Linked DNA regions of Homo sapiens: region 2 is linked to region 1. Evidence: fine-mapped expression QTL. Tissue or cell type: whole blood. Region 1 holds a variant in brackets; the other region holds the start of a gene. All regions are shown on one strand. Distances are from middle to middle.

Region 1 (7,584 bases):
GGAAAAAGATATTCCATGCACTGGAAACCAAAAGTGAGGAGGAGTAGCTACATTTATGATAGATAAAACAGACTTTAAGTCAAAAACTGTAAAAAGAGACAAAGAGGGCCATCATATAATGATAAAGGGATCAACTCAGCAAGAAGATAAAACAACTATAAATATATATGTACTCAATACCAGAGCACCTAGATAAATAAAGCAAATACTATTAGACTGGCTGAGGACTTGATTATCACACTCTCAGAATTGGACAGATCATCTAGATAGAAAATCAGCAAAGAAACACTTGATTTAAACTGCATTTTAGACCAAATAGGCCTACCAGATATTTACAGAAGATTTCAACCAACAGCTACAGAATACACATTTGCTTCATCAGCACATGCAACATTTTCCAGGATAGGCCACATATTAGGCCACAAAGAGGTCTCCAAATACAAAAGAATTGAAATTATATCAAGTATCTTTTCTGACCACAATAGCATAAACTAGAAATCAGTAACAAGAGGAACTTCTGAAAATGTACAGATATGAAACAAAACAGAAAACCCAGAAATAAATCTATGTATTTGCAGCCAACTGATTTTTGACAAAGGCACCAATACCATAAGTTGGGGGAAAGAACAGCTTCTTTAATAAATGAAGCTGAGAAAACTGGATATCTATATGCAGAAAAGTGAAACTAGACCCCTATCTCTCACCATACACAAAAATCAACTCAAAATGTATTAAAGACATATATGTAAGCCCCAAAACTATGACACTACTAGACGAAAACACAGGGGAAATGCTTTGGGACAGTGGTCTGGGCAAAGATTTTACGGAAAAGACCTCGAAAGGACAGGGAACAAAGCAAAAATAGACAAACTGGATAATATCAAACTGAAGCTTTTGCACAGCAAAGGACAATCAACAGAGTGAAGAGAGACTTCAACAGACTGAAGAATGGGAGAAAATATTTGCAAACCATTCATCCAAAAGATGATTAATACCTGGAATATGGAATACTCAAACAACTCAATGACAACAAAAGGAAATAATCCAACTTAAAAATGGGCAAATAAGCTGAAAAGACATCTCTCAAAAAGTCATATAAATGGCCAACAAGTATATTAAAAAATGTTCAACATCACTAATCATCAAGGAAGTGTAAATCAAAACCACAATGAGATATCATCTCACTTCAATTAGAATAGCTATTATCGAAAAGACAAAAAATAACACACTGGCAAGGATGCAGAGAAGGGAATTCTTACACACTGTTGGTGGGAATACAAATTATTATAGTCATTATGGAAAAGAGTATAAATGTTCTCAAAAACCTAAAAATATAACTACCATATGGTCCAGCAATCCTACTGATTAGGTATTTATCCAAAGGAAAGGAAATCAGTATATCAAGGAGATATCTGCATCCCCATGTTTATTACTACAGCACTGTTCACAATAGCTAAGATATAGAATCAATCTAAGTGTCCATCAACAGATAAAAGAAAAAAGGGGCCAGGCGCAGTGGCTCACGCCTGTAATCCCAACACTTTGGGAGGCTGAGGCAGGTGGATCACCTGAGGTCAGGAGTTCGAGACCAGCCTGGCCAACATGGTGAAACCCCATCTCTACTAAAAATACAAAAATCAGCCAGGTGTGTTGGTGCACTCTTGTAATCCCAGCTACTCGGGAAGCTGAGGCAGGAGAATTGCTTGAACCCAAGAGGCGAAGGTTGCAGTGAGCCAAGATCATGCCACTGCACTCCAGCCTAGGTGACAGAGCAAGACTCCATCTCACACACACACAAAAAGGAAATGTGGTATATATACACAGTAGAATACGATTCAGCCATAAAAGAAGAAAATCTTGTCATCAAAGTTGTGCTCGTAAAACTAGAGAATAGAATGCTGATTACTAGAAGCTGGGAAGAAGTCAGGGAAGAGAAATTGGGAGAGGATAATTAATGAATACAAAATTAAAGCTAGATAGGAGAAATATGTTCTAGTTGTTCTAAAGTCCTATACAACACTGTAGGATGACTATAGTTAATAATAATTGATTGTAAATTTCCAAACAGTTGAAGAGAGGATTTTAAATGTTTCCAACACAAAGAAATGATAAAAGTTTGAGGTGATGAGTATGCTAATTACCAATTTGATTATTACACATTATACACATGTATCAAAATATCACACTGTACCCCATACATATGTATAATTATAAAAATAATAAAAGTAAACAAATCAATATAAATACATACATACATACATACATCCACTATGGGTAGCACAGGGAGAGCTCTGATGCGCATGAATTTTAACATGATTTCTATGAAACAGATTTAATTTTACAGACTCAAAAAAAAAAGTATAGCCCTATCTCACACCCTATACAAAAATGAACTCAAACAGATAAAAGACCTAAATGTAAGAGTAACTGTAAAACTCTTAGAAGAAAACATAGGCATAAATCTTCCATCCTGAGATTAGGCAACCCTTCTGACACCAAAAAACATAAGCAAAACAGCAAAATTTAAAACTTTTGTGCATCAAAACATAGCATCATGAAAGTAAAAAGAAGGCCAGTTGTGGTGGCTCACACCTGTAATCCCAAAATTTTCAGGGGCCAAAGCAGGAGAATCACTTGGGCCCAGGAGTTTGAGACCAGCCTGGGAAATATAGTGAGACCCCATCTCTACAAAAAATAAAATATTAGCTGGGTACGGTGGTGCACACCAGTAGTCCCAGGTACTTGGGAGGCTGAGGCAGGAGAACTGCTTGAGCCCAGGAGGCAGAGGCTACAGTGTGCCATGATCGCACTACTGCCCTCCAGCCTGGGCAATAATGCAAGACCCTGTCTCAAAAAAAAAGAGTAAGTAATAAGACAACCCACAGAATGGAGAAAGTATTTGTAAATCATACATCTGATAAAGGTCAATTATCCAAAATATATAAAGACTTCTACAACTCAACAATAAAAAGACAACACAATTAAAAATAGGAAAAGGATATGAAGAGGCATTCCTCTAAACAAGATATACAAATGCCCAATGAAAAGACACTATATGTCATTAGGGAAATGCAAATCAAAGCCAAAATGAGATACCATCTCACATCCACAAAGATGGCTATAACAACAACAACAACAACAACAAAAAACAAAACAGACAACAACAAGTGCTGACAAGAACGTGGAGAAACTGGAACCCTCATACATTGCTGGTGGTAAGGTACAGCCACTTTGACAAACGGTGAGGCACCCTCTCAAAAAAGTTAAACACAATTACCACATGACCCAACAATTCCACTCTACATGTAAACCTAAGAAAAGTGAAAGCATACGTCCACACAAAAACTTGTACACATATATCCATAGCAGCACTATTCATAACAGTCAAAAAGTAAAAACAACCCAAATATCCATAAATTGCTCAATGAATAAACAAAATGTGATATATCCATGCAATGGAACATTGTCAGCCATAAAAAGGAACGAGGTCGTGATGCATGTTACAGCCTGGATGAACCGTGAAAATATTACGCTACATTAAAGAAGCCAGACACAAAAGGCCACACAACGTTTGATTCCATTTACACGCAATATCCAGAATAAGCAAATCTATACAGACAGGAAATACACTAGCGGTTGCCAGGGGCTGGTGACAGAAGGGAGGAGTGAGTTACTGCTCAGTGCGTACAGGGTTTCCTTTTAGGGTGATTAAAATGTTCTGGAATTAGACAATGGTTGTACCACTTTGTGAACATAATAAAACATCACTGAATTATACACCTTAAAGGGTCAAGTTTATGGTGTATGAGTTATATCACAATAACAAAATTTTTAAATCTCTATACCAACTATTTTTCCCTCAGCAGCCAGAATGAACCTTTTAAAACACAAAGTAGACGATTTAACTCCTATGCTCAAACTTTGAGATGCTCTCCCATCTCACTTGAAATAAAATTCAAAGTCCTTACCTTAGCCTACAATGTCTTAAAGAATCGACTTCTCCGATTTGGGTAATGGGTATACTAGAAGCCCAATCCCCAGCAGGTATGCAATATACCCATGTAACAAACAAGCCCATATACCCCCTGAATCTAAAATACAGAATTGATTTGTCTGAATTCTTTGCCTATTACTTCTCACCCACCTCCCCACATCCATGCAGCCACCGGCCTCCTGGCTCTTCGTTAGTGTGCCAACCACTCTGTACCCTCAGGGTCTCTGTCTCTTCCCTCTACCTAGAAAATCTTTCCCCAGATAAATGCAAACCTGA[G/T]ACCCAAACTCCAAATCTCAACTCAATGTCACTTCCTTAAAAAGGCCTTACCTGGCCACCCTACCCCTTCCCTATTTTGTTTTCCTCATAACATTTATCACAATCTCACGCATTATGTACTAAATTTATATATTATTTATCTTCTGTCTTACTATACTAGAATATAAGCTTCATGAAAAAAGAGGCTTGGTTTTTGTTCATGGTCATATCCCTAGAACCTTAAACAGTGTCTGCCAACTAATAGATTCCCAATATGATCTGTTCAATGAATAAATAAATTAATTTAATAAAATGTAAGAGAAAGTCACAACTAGGTCCTTTGAGATATTATCATATTAATAGAAACCGCTCACCTGTTCCAGGTTATTATACTGCACACGGCAATAACTGCAATATCCTTGTCTTTTCTGCATCTTGAATAAATAACTGAAGTCAGATGGCTACTGTCTTTGAATACTCAAGCTGAAAAACAAAAAGAAAAATGGTAAAAATCATAATTCCTTACTCTTATGAGGAAAATGGCTATGATAATTAGCAGAAAACAGAAATTCACTTCTAATAATTAGGAAAATATACAAGGCTGCCATGAGCCACTGAATAAATAAGTGAACCTGGAGCAGAGACAAGAACTATGTATCTTATGAAAGAGCAGTTTGTTGCCAATGTTTGAAGACTAGATGACTGAATATTTAGTTTTTCTAATAACTTATTAGAGATATTAGATATTGATTTAGTAACAAAGAATACAATATTCAATTTGCGAAGACCAATTACTTCTAAGATATTGTTATGGTATATTTACTATACTCTAATGGAGCTCATTAATTTCCCCATCATGTTTCCATATCAAACCCCAGATTATTTGACAACGTCTCATTCTCTGTTATCATGAGTGTAAAGACACCACATGGCATTTTCTGCTCAGCTCATAGAGAGGCAGGTTTTTAAATAATTTATCCAACACAGTTGCTAAAAATCAGAACAACTAATTTAGCCTCTGAAACACAAAACACTTTTCTTCTGACAATTATGTAAGCCAGATAAATAGGAGGGATTTTTTTCCTATTACTGTTTAGATTTCTCTACAAATAAATAGTTTTCCAGTTTCCACTCACCTAAAAGTATAATCCTTCAACATTACATACTGCATGGTTCCCAAACCAGGCTGAATACCCAAAATTTTAGTAGAGCTAGGGTGAGCCTAGGATTCAGAATTTTTAAAATTCCCCCAGTAATTTTCATGCCCTACCAATGTATTAACTGACACAATGTACATATAATTTATGATTATTTTAAGTAAAAAATTTAATGCAGTTTATTTGCTGCTTTGTTAAGCCGAAAACAGAATTACAAATAATTTTGTATTTCAATTAATTTAAGCATTCTTATCTGTTGGAAAATATATAACAATCATTCTATAACATGTTATGAGAATTTCTGCAATGGAAAAAATTTAATCATTAAAATCAATAACTGAAAAATGAAATCACAGCCTTAAAACCATAAGATGAGGGGAAAAAAGCTTCATTAAGTCAAAATGCTAGCATAATATTTACTTACCTATTACTTCTTATTATGAGAAATTGATTTTCTGACTTCTCACATTTATGAGGAAAATTAATCAATTAAACCAGCCTCTGACACAAAAAACATGTAAGACATTACTTACTTAAAATTTGGTCTCTTTTCCACTAATTTACTTCACTTATTAACCTACAGCAATAAAACAGAACAAACTTTTATTTTAAATTGTACTTACACATAAGGCAAATTTCAAGCTGAGAGAACCTAGAGCTTAAATGTAAACTTTGAAAAATCCTAAAATAAACTTTTGGGGGATTGAAAATATAATTAAAACATTCATTGAATAAAGGACAAAAGTAAACCATTAATCTAATATCACATACACACAAAATGTAAATACTTAAATATTTTTGGTCTTTAACCCTATGGCCCTTAACTCCTGTGGCATTATCACCTGCCACTTCCGTCATCTCTAGTGCCTTAATGACAGTGAGTTACAATAAACCAGAAGCATGTGTTGGCATTTTTAAAAATTAACATGCCAGGACCCCATCAGAAACTTAGCAAATCAAAATCCCAGTGGTCAAGGGAACCCAGGACATACGTTATAAAGCATATTTAAAATGCTCAAGGCAGCTGGGCATGGTGGCTCATGCCTGTAATCCCAGCACTTTGGGAGGCCGAGGCAGGTGGATCGCCTGCGGTTAGGAGTTTGAGAACAGCCTGGCCAACATGGCAAAAACCTGTCACTACTAAAAATACAAAAACTAGCTGGGTGTGGTGGCAGATGCCTATAGTCCCAGCTACTCGGGAGGCTGAGGCAATAGAATCGTTTGAACCCAGGAGGTGGAGGCTGCAGCATGCCGAGGTCACACCACTGCACTCCAGCCTGGGTGACAGAGCGAGGCTTTGTCTCGAAAAAATAAAATAAAATAGAATAAAATAAAATGCTCAAGGTGATTCTGCTGTAAGTTGACTCAATAACATAAGTCATTATTTTTTATAAACTAATAAAACTTATTTATTAAAGGGATCATTTCTTTAGGGTCTGGATTTATATTACTTTGCATGCCTAAATAGGTATTTTTATACAAACTCTGAATTCTCCTAGAACCTGATATTTTTATAAAGTAAAAAATTATTTACCTGGAGCAGAAAAGGTCAGGTATTTCATCAGCTGTATTAGTTCTGGCAAGTATCTGTAAATTAAAATAAAATCATTTTTTAGAAGAGGTCCCATAAGTGTCTACCATTGACCAAATAAATACATCCAGATATATTGTGAACGGTGACATGTTTCCAATAATATAAGAAAAAATATTAACTTTGGAGTACAAAGCACTTTACATACTATGACTCACTGAATCTCACACATGACCTCCTAAAGTTCTGGCGCAGTGACTGTGATGGCCCATCTAACCCACCATCAAACACTGCAGGTCTCTAGGTTCCTGGAACAGTAGCTGTAAAAGACTATAAGGCTCAATTGTGCCTCTGGTAAAGTTGAGAGCAAAAATGCTGTCAAACCCAAAATGAGCTTCATGAGAAACTTCCCGAGGCTCAGGTACCACGTTAGCTTTAATGAAAAATACTGTCAATTCTTTTAACACCTATCTATATCAATACACTATTAAGCAGAAGCATGTTTTTTATTCCTCCGCATTGTTGTAGGCAAAGTGCTGCTCCTTATCCAGGATCACTGGTTAAGAAAAAATTCCAACACATAGGCTCAAGAGAGCCAGTGACACCACGGTATAATCAAAGAATAACTATTAAGCACCCACTCAGCA
Region 2 (5,771 bases), 120 kb after region 1:
TCCAGGATGGATTTTAGATCTTGTTGAAAGCAGCCACATCCATGGACTGCACATAGTCCTCAAAAGCAGTGATCTGCTCCTCCAGCATATCTGTTCCAACTTTATCATCTTCAACTACACACTGTATTTGAAGTTTCTTAATTCCGTATCCCACTGGAACTAGTTTAGCTAAAAAGAGCATTAAGAAAAATCCTAGTTAGAAAAGTCTTGTAGGAAAGGTTGAAACTGTAGGCAAATTCCAGATGTTAGTTTCAAAAAAAAAAAGGCAAAGCCTAAACTCACATGAGCCCCAGACTAAGCCGTCTGCTTGAATGCTTCTGACGCACTCCTCTAATTTCGCCATATCTGTCTCATCATCCCAAGGTTTCACATCTAGTAAGATGGAAGACTTGGCAACAAGTGCAGGTTCTAAAAACAATAAACAGCATTATTCAAATAATGAATTGTATTTTTTTCACCCTACTCCAAGACACAAACAAATCCATCTCAATTTGTTTTGAGACTATCTCCTTAGCCAAACAAAACTACAGATACATCTTGTGTCTGTCACACATATATACCCACTTTCTGTTTTGCTAAGAAAGAGGTGTTTGTGTTAACAGTTTCTTTCCCACAGAGGAATGCCACAACTGCTACCATAAGAACAGCTGCAGACCAGTAGCTGTGGAAGAACCTGTACAGGTTTTAAAATATTGACCTATTCAAGGAATGTGGAGGAAATTACTTCAAGGTCAAGCTTTGAAAAAGATTACTTACATTAACATGAAATGAAGTTAAAAACAAATGACCTACTTTTGGCTTTCTTTGATTCATATTGTGCAAGACGTTCTTCCCTTAGCCTCTTTGCTTCTTCACTTTCCTGTAAAGAAAAAAAATTAATCCACTTCAGAAAGCTGGTTGTTCCTCTGCTTAAAGCTAGTGGGGTCATCACAAAAAAGACTGGCTTAATCAGAAAAAAGCAAATCCATCACGAACTCAGCCGAAAGATGGTGATTTGATTTTATTCATCATGCAACCAGTCAGAATTTGAAAAAGGCATATAAATTAAAGCCAGGATTCAAATCCAGGCAATTTGGCTTAACCACATTGATACAATTGCTGATCGATGTATTCTTTTTTTTTTTTTTTGGGACGGAGTCTCGCTCTGTCGCCCAGGCTGGATGCAGTGGCACGATCTTGGCTCACTGCAACCTCCGCTTCCTAGGTTCAAGCAATTCTCTGCCTTAGCCGCCTGAGTAGCTGGGATTACAGATGCCTGCCACATTTTTTTGTATTTTTAGTACAGACAGGGTTTCACCATCTTGGCCAGGCTGGTCTTCAACTCCTGACCTCGTGATCCACCCGCCTCAGCCTCCCAACATGCTGGGATTACAGGCATGAGCCACTGCGCCTGGCCGATATGTTCTTTATAGAAGACGCCATACCTCCTCATCATCAGATCCAAAGAGGTCAATGTCATCATCATCTTTACTATCTGTAGCTCCACTTCCTGTAGTGTCTTCCACATCGGCAGGACCATATTTGCCCAAAGCTTTCTTCACTCCTGGCAGGCTTGAAAAACATTTAAATTCAACCACTATTGAGCTAGTATAACATCCTTTTCCAGAAAATACAAAATAACTTGTTTTAATCACTACTTATCACTAGATCCCTTTTGCAATCATAATTTACCCTTTCACATGCGCCCAGGTAAACACTGTCATATGTTCAACTCCTCACCCGACAAGCATTAGTACCATGTGAGACATTATTTTCAATACTCACTATGATTTACTCTTTCAGTATGAACATTTCTGTTTGAGATTTCATTAAGTATGCTCAGTTCCATTCTTAGTGAACTGGAGTCCACTTCCCCAAACTTCCACCCTTGTTGGCAGTTTCAGAAGAATGGCCAAGGACTGAATGAATGAGCCACCCTCTCACCCCAGAGGTGGGCCCCCCAGGTCAAGGTCGAGGCACATTGGCAGGGCAGTGTGGGGAAAAGTTGAATTGCTGCTGTCCATGTTCTACCTGTTCTGTGAAAAAATGGAGGGCTTCAGTCTCTTGGCCTTCTAAGGTTACAGAAAAATTTAGCTTACAATATCCCAACAAAACTAAAGTAGCCTGGGTCCAGTTTTGTCATGTGAACATCCTGATAAACTTCGAGAGCAGTCTTATTCTTCAGCTCTATACAAAGATGATTTTACCTGGCCTTTTCCTTTTCGTAAGACTTGATGTGATTATACCAACGTAGGGCATGACACAAGTCGGCAGGCGGTGGGCTGGACACGGCTTCAAATACTGCCACATCTGCTTGTGATGGCACATACCTGCCAAGGACACAGAAACATTCACACACACCTTTGAAAAACAAACGCCAGCGAATAAATAATAAATACCGTATGCATCACATTAATTAGTGGGCACTAACCCCAGCAGGGTTGCTTTAATGCTTTTCTTTTCTTATTAGCTCCTTCAAATCAAACCATATGTTTGGGTCACCGCGCTATCCTGAGAAATGTCTGCCACTAAGTAGACCTCAAATACTGCAATGTCTGGCGTTGCTCTATCTACAGCTTAACATGTATTAACTGGGCAGCGATGCGGAAACACCTGGCTGAATTAAGTGTAAATAAAGCACATTTTAACCTTTCCTTGCTCGTGAACCGCTCCCCGGAGGCCGGGCTCGCCCCACACGAGGGCCTTGGGAGACGGCAACGGGGCGCTTTCCCCTCCCTCTCGAAAGGGCCCCGGGCCCGGCCTCCCTCCCTCCCGCGGCAGCCGACACGCTGCGCCACGTGGCCCCGGCCCCGGGCGGAGAAACCTCCCCGCCACCCCGACTCAGCCCGTCCGCTCACCCCTCGATGTAGCTCTTGTCCGCCAGGTAATCGTTGAGCACCTGGAGGCCGGCAGGGCTTTTCAGGTCTCCGAAACCCATGGTGTCGGCTGTATCCGAGAGCTGGGGAGCAGCAGAAAGAGAGCGCGCAAATTGTGGGCGCCCCACGCTGAAGAGAGGAAAAAGGACCCGAAGAGACCGGAAAATTCCTTATATAGAGACGGAGGCGTTTCCCTCCACCGCGCCGGACCGAAGGTTAAAGGTCAAAGTACTTTTGCATTCCCACTTCTCCACGTACGAATTGGGGGCCCTGAATTAAATGGCCCACAAATTGTCCATGGACCTTTCGTTGCGTTTGGAAGTAAATTAATAAAATAGGCATGTCTTAAGTTCGTACCTCCACGGCTCCCGAAGATGACGGGAACCAGCCCTAGAAGCGCCGGAGATGACCGAAGACGCCCGGCCTCGAGGCTGGGGCCACTTCCGGCGGAACTGCGGGTCCAAGTTGTCCTTCCCGCCTCCGGGCTGGGCCGACCTCAGCTCCGCCCTCTGGTCGGCTGACGGAAATTGCCGACAAACTTGTCGAATGCAAGGATTCTAGTCCCTCCGGGCTTTCCGTTCTCCAGGCCCGGCTGACAGAGTTAGCCGAGGCCGCCATATTGAATAAGCGACCCGGCCTCCTAGGGGGTCGTCGTGGTCCAGACAGTTTAGCAGAACAGCCTCCGCGGCTCCGGGGAGAAGGTGAGGTCTTGTATGGATGGGAAGGGTGAGGTGCGTCGGCCAGAGGCTTATTTATTGACGGGACTGTTTCCTTTGGCCCACGCGACGTAGTCTTCTGTTGTCCTTGACTGGGCGCCGCCTCCCGCCCCGCCGCCTCGGAAGCCCCTGAGAGCCGGCAGATGGGGGGCTTTTAGCCACGGTCTCTGGTCTGATGAAGCAGAAAAGAAGATGAGGATCAGGGGGTCCTCGGGAACGCTGTCACGAATGTAGGCTTGCAGGTGACCTTCCCTCTGCAGGGAAAATTCAGGACATTTCCCTCTCAGAGGAGGAGGCCGTTTTATTCCCCGGGAGAGGACCAGTGTCCGATGACTTAGGCCTTAAGACTAAGCCTTTCCCCCCAGATTTTTACACGCCTGATACAGTGCATGATTGTTTGGTCGCTGTTGTGTTAGCAATGGCTCACGCTTCTGTTTGTTGTCCTTGTTTGTTTGGTCCATTGACCACGTTGGACAGCATTTTTTTATTCCTTTAACTAACGGGAAATTGAGAAAAACGACTTTTGAAAAGTTAGCCCAGGATTGCATTGCAAATAACAAAACGTTGTTTACAGGTTATTGGGATCCAGTGCTTGAACTGTAAGGTCTTGGATCAGACACAACTCTGTTCACACACGAATTGACGGTATAGAAGTGTAACGTTAACTGTTTTTGATGAATAAACAAGTTATTTTTGTTTTGCGGAATATTCTTGTTTTCACCGACTTAAGGCTGCCAGAGCACCTGCACTTTTTAAATCCGGGAAAGTGGTCTCTACAAATTAACGACCAGAAATTAGAGATTCAGTTCACTTAACCGTTATTGAACATTTACTACGAGCCAGAAATGAGTCCGTAAAGAAGAATAAAATGGATGATATGCTGGGGGAATCGTAAATGTTAGATAGCCTGGTCAATGAAACTGAGAAAAGGCTTTTAAGCCAAGATTTGAAGGATAAGGAGGGGCCAGGGAAGAGCATTTCAGTCTGAGGTCACAGCCGGTGGCAAGAGGGGAGAGGCTGTGTGGGAATAGTGTGGAAGCTTGGTGACCTGTTAAGCTATTGAAGGCCGGAGGCGGTGGCTCACTCCTGTAATCCCACCACTTTGGGAGGCCGAGGCGGGCGGATCACGAGGCCAGGAGATCGAGACCATCCTGGCTAACACGGTGAAACCCTGTCTCTACTAAAAATACAAAAAATTAGCTGGGCGTGGTGGCGGGCGCCTGTAGTCCAGCTACTTGGGAGGCTGAGGCAGGAGGCTGGCGTGAACCCGGGTGGCGGGGCTTGCAGTGAGCCGAGATCGCTCCGCTGCACTCCAGCCTGGGCGACAGAGCGAGACTCTGTCTCAAAAAAAAAAAAAAAAAAGCTATTGAAATACTCCAGGCAAGGAGTGATGGTGGATTGGGATAGGGTGGTACCTTGGAAGGCAAGAAGTAAATGGATGGATCCATGTTGGAGAACGTGGAATAGCATAGTCCCTATATGGAAAAGTATCCAGTCTAGTTTAAGAAATGATTAGTCATTAACATTTTCCATCCAAAGAGATAATTATTTCTATTGCTACTTGGCATATCAATGTTCAAAGCACATATCGAAGTGTTGCAAATCTGTATTTCTTATGTTGGGCTATGCTTTGTTGCTGGATGTCAACAGTCTAGTTCTAGTTGATTTCCTATCCAAAGTGAGTACTATTTTTATATTGCATTGGAGATAAAAAAGTATTAAAGTTTTAAAATTGTATGAAATACTGATTGTTGATTTCAAATCTGTCAGTGCTCTAATGGAGTAAGTTTAGGTTTATATTTATGCCATCAGTAGTTTTTAATAGGACAGATGCTACTCTAGTTCTAGAACTTGGTGATAAGACTGTTTGGTGGTTATTTTCATAAGGGTCCTGTGCTAGGTCTTCAAAAAAGGGAAATGTCCAAATTCCTTGTCCTCAAGGAGCTTACAGTCTGGTAGGTACTAAAATTGATTACTAACCTACAGTTTAGTAAGTAAAACAAAAATATCTACACAGTGTGTACTGGTACTAAAGAAAAAGAGCTCAAAGAAAGAGTGCTTTAAAATTGGTTGTCTGCCAGGCGCGGTGACTCACGTCTGTAATCCCAACACGTTGGGAGGTCGACGCGGGTGGATCACTGAGGTCAGGAGTTTGAGACCAGCCTGGCCAACATGGCGAAACCCCTTCTCTACTGAAAAT

Evidence for each region. PIP is the estimated chance that this variant, and not a neighbour inherited with it, causes the effect.
Region 2: it holds the start of NDUFS1, and the variant in region 1 is fine-mapped to the expression of NDUFS1 in whole blood (INTERVAL, PIP 0.94).

Annotation. Positions count from the first base shown.
Region 1 is chr2:206,278,949-206,286,532 of GRCh38, reverse strand. It overlaps ZDBF2 (zinc finger DBF-type containing 2), which reads right to left. Exons shown (of 5, transcript NM_020923.3): 2 at 6,941-6,993; 3 at 4,624-4,732. The coding sequence starts at 4,683. Among named protein-coding and RNA genes, the nearest start is that of ZDBF2, 8.1 kb to the right of the region's middle. The variant G/T (reference allele first, on the strand shown) is at 4,271.
Region 2 is chr2:206,157,126-206,162,896 of GRCh38, reverse strand. NDUFS1 (NADH:ubiquinone oxidoreductase core subunit S1) reads left to right here and starts at 3,453. Exons shown (of 19, transcript NM_005006.7): 1 at 3,453-3,556. It overlaps EEF1B2 (eukaryotic translation elongation factor 1 beta 2), which reads right to left and starts at 3,002. Exons shown (of 6, transcript NM_001959.4): 1 at 2,838-3,002; 2 at 2,187-2,309; 3 at 1,425-1,551; 4 at 793-859; 5 at 283-408; 6 at 1-168. The coding sequence starts at 2,917. The coding sequence ends at 14. SNORD51 (small nucleolar RNA, C/D box 51) reads right to left here and starts at 1,016; the gene lies at 947-1,016. It overlaps SNORA41 (small nucleolar RNA, H/ACA box 41), which reads right to left and starts at 669; the gene lies at 538-669. RefSeq lists a silencer at 2,666-2,735 and enhancers at 2,996-3,255, 3,366-3,775.